2 linked regions of the Homo sapiens genome follow. The protein of the gene in region 1 interacts with the protein of each later gene in a pairwise test. Each region holds a gene or a part of one and is shown on either strand. Other genes may lie near its edges.

Evidence for each region.
Region 2: the proteins of LONRF1 (region 1) and GPRASP3 interact in binary tests that used the Homo sapiens proteins (3 or more experiments, as listed by UniProt).

The regions. Positions count from the first base shown.
Region 1 is NC_000008.11:12,735,027-12,738,526, forward strand, and holds part of LONRF1 (LON peptidase N-terminal domain and RING finger protein 1), read right to left. Parts: intron 3,119-3,500; coding exon 2,969-3,118; intron 2,335-2,968; coding exon of another isoform or gene 2,246-2,334; intron 2,115-2,245; coding exon 1,874-2,114; intron 1,772-1,873; coding exon 1,675-1,771; intron 375-1,674; coding exon 260-374; intron 1-259.
Region 2 is NC_000023.11:102,744,743-102,748,242, forward strand, and holds part of GPRASP3 (G protein-coupled receptor associated sorting protein 3), read left to right. Parts: intron 1-1,236; exon of another isoform or gene 1,237-1,432; intron 1,433-3,074; 5' UTR 3,075-3,169; intron 3,170-3,500. UniProt on the Homo sapiens protein: Survival and differentiation promoting protein that plays a role in the regulation of neurosynaptogenesis. Induces phosphatase PP2A activity which results in APP dephosphorylation and inhibits BACE1-mediated processing of APP.

The DNA.
Region 1 (3,500 bases):
CCATACCCACTTTTGTTTAAAAAAAAAAAATTAAGTACAAGGGGGTTGGTCTTCAGCATCTGTCTTCTTTCTCCCCATCCTCTTCAACCTCACTTTTCTCCAACATTAGCATATGGGTAATAAAACATTATCCTTGTTAGTCACTCAGAATATAGAATGTAATTCTGAACGTGATCATCACTATTTCTATGGCTGAACAGAAATTAAACCATGCTGCCAAACTTAAGACCAACAAACAGACACATATACAAATATTTACCTCTTTTAAGCTTTCTTTGCAAAGAGGACAATATGGTGCATGATCTAAACAACGCTCAAGACAATTCTTACAGAACGAATGTCCGCAAGGGGTTGTTACTGGCTCAAAAAACAACCTGAAATCAACCAAGATACATGTTAGTTTTCACATTAAACTATCCACTGAAAAGCTTGTACTACTTTAGAACCATAACACTAATCTCTATTTAAAGGAGGAAGAAGGAGGGCCCAGCAGGCAGGAGAGGAGAGAAAGGGCAGTGATAAGTGTAACCATACCCTCCAGAATGTTTTAAAATTCTCCATCAACAAAGGCCTCCTGCCAAAGGCCTAGAGCCAAGGGCCTAGAGCTGTCCTGACTAACGCAACAGCCCCTGGACACTATGGCTACTAATCACTTGAAATGTGGCTAGTACAAGCTGATATGTGCACTGAATGTAAAATACATACCAGATTTCAAAGACTTTCTGCAAAATAAATAATGTAAAATACATCATTAAAAATCATTAGTTAGCTTTTGTATAGCCTTTAGATTCCCATTTTAATATCAACTTAAAAATGATTCCTTAATAGGTTTATAAGACCCTTATGATATAAAACTCATAAAAAGAATGACCTAATAAATAATGCAGTTGAATCCTAATGTTAGACTTAATACTAAATGTATTATTCAAACATTACAGAACAACTAGTTTTACTTATTTTCTGAAACATGATAGTTTTGAATTTGCTAGAAATAGATTTAGAGGTACTTTAGGGACTGTTTAGTATAATCCCCTCACTTCACAGATGAAGAAACCAAGGCTCAGAATTAAGACTTGCTCAGGAATGTAACTGCTACCAGCCTAGTGTGACCAGCACTAGGCCTCCTGACCCCGTATGAATCTTTTGATCCTACACAATTCATGTAAATGAGAAATGTTATTTCAAAACATTTAGTCTTTTAGAATTATAGCATTCTGAATAATGGAAATCCTTATCCTTATGTTACTTTAAAAAGACTTTATGGTTAATATACATTAATAAGATAGGATCATATACATAAAATACTAATTAGAATTCATACCCAAATTTAAAACCATGGAGATAGGTAAGTTTCAAAAATAATATCATCTATAACTTTCTTAGTACTTTACAATTTCCCAGATTCCTTTTATACTGAAGCCATGTGATTCTCACAACAATGAGATGTAGGCCATGCAAAGCTTGATCCCACTTTCTAAATTAGGAAACCTGAGGTTCAGAGATTCAGTTATTTGCCCAAGGCATGAAAGGTAAACCCAGGACTAAAATTCATGTCTTTTGATTTTTATTCCAGCATTGTGTTACTTTACATTGTCTATTATTACCTTTATCTACACGGTATTTTATGTATACTAACATAAAATATTCATCTTCTATAAAGTTTTATATGCTTACCTCATGCAGAGAGAACACTCGAAATCTGAGACATCGATTAATTCTTCTGGAATATCACCATAAGCTAAGGAAAACATACAGACTTCATTGGGAGTTTCTATTAAAACAAAGACATGGGGTTTTCTTCCTTAGGAAAAACTTTAAAGACTATTCTGACTAAATAAATTTATTTTATATAAGTGTAGAGCAAAATTTTTACCTCCTTGTTTTTTCAGCTTATTTCTTCCATCTTCATTTACAATCACATCCTGTTCTAAAAGAGACAACTTTCTTTTCAGCAGAACACCTTTTTCTTGAACTGACAGAACAGGTTCTGAGGACACTCTTTTTAAACAGTCCTCTCTGGCAGGCATTTCTGTTGAATTTATAGACTGTGCTGACTGAGCACGGTTTAAGCTTCCTTTGACAGGCTCTGAAGTGACCTCTGGTATTTCTTCACTCTACAAAAATACAATAAACAAAGGTAACTGTATTTCTTTACTATCCTTTATTCCTCTCACCAAGAATCAAACTGAAATGAAATTTCAATGCCTTATAATGCTCATTTTAATGTTCATTTAATAGCACTAACTTGATTCCAACACTGTGACAAGTAAATGATTTTTGCCAGCACAGTTGGCCCTCCGTATCCACAGGCTCTGCATCCGTGGGTTCATCCAACTGGGGATAGAAAATATTCTAAAAAAAAGCCTGAACATATATCGACTTTTTTCTTGTCATTATTCCCTAGACAATACAGTATAACAACTATTTACATAGTATTTACATTGTATTAGGTATTATAAGTAACCTAGAGATGATTTAAGTATACAGGAGGATGTGCATAAGTTATATGCAAATACTGTGCCATTTTATTAATATATCAGGGACTTGAGCATCCTTGGATTTGCTATCTGTGAGAGGTCCTGGAACCAATCTCCCACAGATACAAGGGATGACTGTACTTACACAGCCCTAGAAATCAAGGTGACTTATGTTATAATGAGGTTTAAAAGTAGTTATGCTATAACACAGCTGTTACTACCCTGAGGAAACATAAATGCAATGTTCTATACATATTTTTAAAGAACTAAAAGTTTTCTTTCACGGGACCTAAAATTGTGATTCATTAGCAAATATTTTACATAAAAGATTTTAGTGTAAAGTAAAGGCTATGGAAAAAATTCTACTATGATAACTAACCAGGTTAAAAGTACTTAAGTAGGTGCTAGTACTTGAAACTAGGAAAGTGAAGCTCTTAACTCGTAAAGAAATGGATACGCTAAACTCATGATAACCTTGTCTCACCCCGTACCTGCTTTGGGCTAGGTTCATTGAGAGACTGAGACTCTTCCATCACTGAATGAAAATCAAAAGGTCTGTTTTTAGTACATGGTAATGAACTCCAGGAAGATTCCTTCAGGCCTTCTTTTAAGTTTTCAGGTAATAATAAATCACATAAAATCTGTAAGAGAAATATTAAAAGTAGTAGAAAATATAAAATATTTGGTTAAGGATAATTTTGTATAAATTTACCTAATAAAGAATATGTAGAAAGTTTGTAGCAGACATTTTTTTAATGAGCAGGAGGGGAACAAGGTAAGCAACACTGTAAGTTCAAAAGTCTTGCAAAATTAGGTGTGCCTCATGGGGTCAAATCACCCGCAAACAAATGATTCAAAACTTTGAAAGGAAAGCATGGGAGTAGTAAGACTCAGGATAAAGGCTGATCTTTCAACACAAAGACTATAAAAAGATCTTAAAAGACATATTAAATATTTATCTCTGAATCTTAGTGAGCCCTATGCTATCAAAATAGTTCATGGTTCACCTCAATGTATATTTAC
Region 2 (3,500 bases), on another chromosome or scaffold:
CTCTGGGCTAAGCCCTGGGGTTACAGGCAGCAAAGACACACCTATGAATTAGCATTGATCTGCAAACCACAGAGGGTACCATGGAATTGTCATGATTCAGTAGCCCCTCACCTCCTTCAACCCTTGACTGACTATACCGTCTACAATGTGCTGAGAATACAGTGGGGAACAATACCAAAAGGGTACTTTCATTCAGGAAACTTCCAGTCTAACAAGTCAAACTCCCCATCGCTTGGAAGGGAGAGTAAAAAAATATATATATATTCAGAAGAAAAAAGCACATGCATGCATTAGGCAGGGTGCAAGGCTGGGAGAAAAGGAGGAGTTGAGGAGCGCAGCTGGAATCTGGGATCTGCCTCGAGGAAGTGCGCGAATAGTGGTCCCCTCTCCTCCCAGAACAGTGGAGAGGCGCCAAGACCATCCCTACCTGGTGCCATCAAAGAGAGAGGACTGTTACGACCTCCTGCGAGTCCTGACAGGGAAAGGCCCTCTTTTGGGGTCAACTGTGGGGACGGCGCAATGCCAACCTGAGCCACCATTTGAAATGAGAAAAAGCGGCGTGGCAGAAAGAAATGAGTCTGGTACAGACCAGTGGTTGGTTTCCTAGGGTTAGAGGTCTAGGTCTACCTTCTGTTAGAAGAGGGGCAGTGGTGAGGCCTTGATGGGAGCCCCCTGCCCCAGAATTCACTTAAGAGCAGGTGTACCTTCCTCCCCTGCGTGGCTCCATGAAGCTGGGAAAGAAACGCACAAGAGGACCACCCTAGAGGCCCAGGCTTGTTTGGCCTGAAATCGCCTCACCCCTCCCAGACTGCACTGCTGACACCCCCTCTCCCATTAGCTTCCAGGAAGGAGAGTGAGAGGGCTGGGGAGAGGGAAGGGGCAGACACCCAGCAGTCCCTGGTTGGGGAGTTGGGGCGGGGGTGCAGACACACCAAGGGGCGGTTTGGTATCCATCCGCTGCTCCCTCCAGCGCGGCTCTTCCCAACCTCCTGATCCTGTCCCCTGCCTGGGTCCCCAGCCGCCCGCCCGTCCCTATATTATAGCAACGCCAGAAATGTGGTGGTGGTGGTCGCCACGTTAGGGTCCGCGGGGGTCCTCCTGAGGCAGCCTGGTGCCAACCCGCAGGCCCAGGCTGGGGCTCGTCATGGCCCCGCCCACCTCTGGGTCGGAACTAAGGTGGGCCTGAGAGGGGGGCGTCGAGCACTTTCGCGCCGTATCCCTCCGCCCCCCTTCCCGACACCCTCGCGGAGAGAGCGGTTCTTGCAGCATCCTGCGCAGCCCCTGCCCAGTTTGGTGCAGAGGCGTGGGGGGCGGGACGCGTCTTTGCCATTCTGATAGCGGGGAAAGCGGTGAGAATCGAAGTGAGGAGCCGCCAGAGGAGAGCTGAGGAGAGGAGGGGGAGGTCGACGACCTGGGCCCTGGGCCTCTGAAGGCAAGTGGGGGTGCGTGAGCTTGGGGTGGTCCGCCAGGGTGGACCGGCTGGCAGCCTGCCCCGCCGACCCTGACATCCTGGCAAGGAGGAGACGATCCGGTCGGAGCCGGTCGCCGGAGAGAGGTGCGCAGTGCTCGAGACCCCTGGCGATGGGGAGGCGGTGACCGGTGCAGGCCGAGCCAGGCCAAGGGCTGAGGGGCTGGCTTGAGAGGCACCGTCAGATCGTCTGGAGGAGAACCGCGCTGACCGCCTCCAAGCCAGCTTTGCAGGCGCCGGCGCCCCGCCCTCGACGGTGTCTGTGCCCGGAAAGGGCTGTGGGGGAGCTCCTGCGGGAGAAATGGCGGAGCGGGAGCCATTGTGGGGGGCTCCCGGGAAGGCCGGGGGGAGCCGGCGTCCCAGCTCTGTGCCCAGCCCACGAGAGGTGGGCCGCGTTCGCTACTCGGGGCCCTGATTCCGGAAAGGGGCCTGTGGGACCCCGTGTCTTGGGTGCTGTCCCTTCCCACAGGCTCCAGGTGGTTGTTAAAGTCTCCTGTCTGCGTGATAGGTCTGTTGGGTTCTCCAAAAGTGGAACTTTGAGTGGGTGAATTATGAAGACACTAAAATGAAATGTTTAACCGCCTTTTATAATACCGCACTGTTTTATTGCCTTACATATTTAGATCCCCACATCCAGTTTTGTGCAAGCAAATAGGGTGTGGACTTAGTCGAATTTCACAACAGTGGTCCATGTAAATAACAGGGTAGTATTTTTCCACCTTTCTTGTTCAGGATCTGTTTTCTCAACATGCTGATCCACTTTAAGTAATGTAATGATGTGTGAGAATGTGGGTTCCGAGTAGAGGGGTAATCTTTTTGAAGGGTCAATTTAGAACATTTGAAGTCAATCTGCTTCTTCAGTTTATGGTTCTGGAAACCAAAACTCCATCTCCAGCCACTCCTCACAGACCCTCTCATTTTGGTGCAGAAATAGTCCCACAGAAGAATTCATGGCATTTCTGATGGTGGATATCTGAGGAGCTATGAGAGTTGGGAGACTTTATTTACTTAGTTTCTGATTCTCAAAAAGGAGGTGTTAGAATCCGAATTCTGGGAATCTGTCCATTAACCTGCTATTTTTCTACCATTGTTAACATAGTCTCTTGGGGTTATTTTTTGCTAGTTGCTCCGCCTTCTTTTTGTAGGGCGTGACTCTTCTTTGGTGGGAAGGATAGCATCTCCTGAGAACTCCTGCTGTATAAGCAGGCTGACATAGGTGGTGAATAAAGTAGGATCTAGGTATGCATGGGGAAGGGGAAGGACATGCACAGATGGTATTAAAATAACAGTCTCCATTATGTTCCCTGCCTGCCTTGTAAGTACAATTGCCTATGTTCCACTACCTATTTCTGCACCTCATTTTTTTTGGTTCAGGAAAGGAGCTGTAACTTCTATTGGGAAAATGACTGACTTCAAAGTTGGCAGGAGGTGTAATCAGGCTGCAGGTCTTGGGGTGATTAGGGAATCATTGAGGAAGAGCAGACAGGTGGGAGACATTTAACATAGCCTTGAATATTCAAAAGCATATGTTATAATCCTTGTTATAGGCATTAGATCATCTTAGTCTCTTCTGTTTTCTTTCCTCTGCCTTCCTTTCTATCCTTAGGTCTGTTTCTTTCTAGGTTCCTGTAGAGATCTGTATGTAGCTGTTCACTTGGAAGTTAATTAAGAAAGAACAAAAACTATTCATTTGGATTCAAGGTAGGTTTATGTGTGAGCACCCCCGTTGATTGGGGTTATGGAAAGGCTGTTGCCAAGTGGGTTAGACCAGATCATATCTTGGTGCCACTGTCTTCCATCTTTCTAGTCACCTCTGACCTCACATTTGTGTACAAGTGATGGGGTGGGGTGAGCCAGGATTATGCCTATGAGGTAATTGGTAGATATTGGGGCAGGAAATGGGAAGATAAGCCACAAGGAGTACTAGGAGGCCAGAAGTGTTATATAACCAAAGCCCTAGATTTGGAAAGGCAGAAATTGGGTTTAGAGATTAGAGTGTAGGTCTGTCAACCAAATACTCAGAACTCCAATC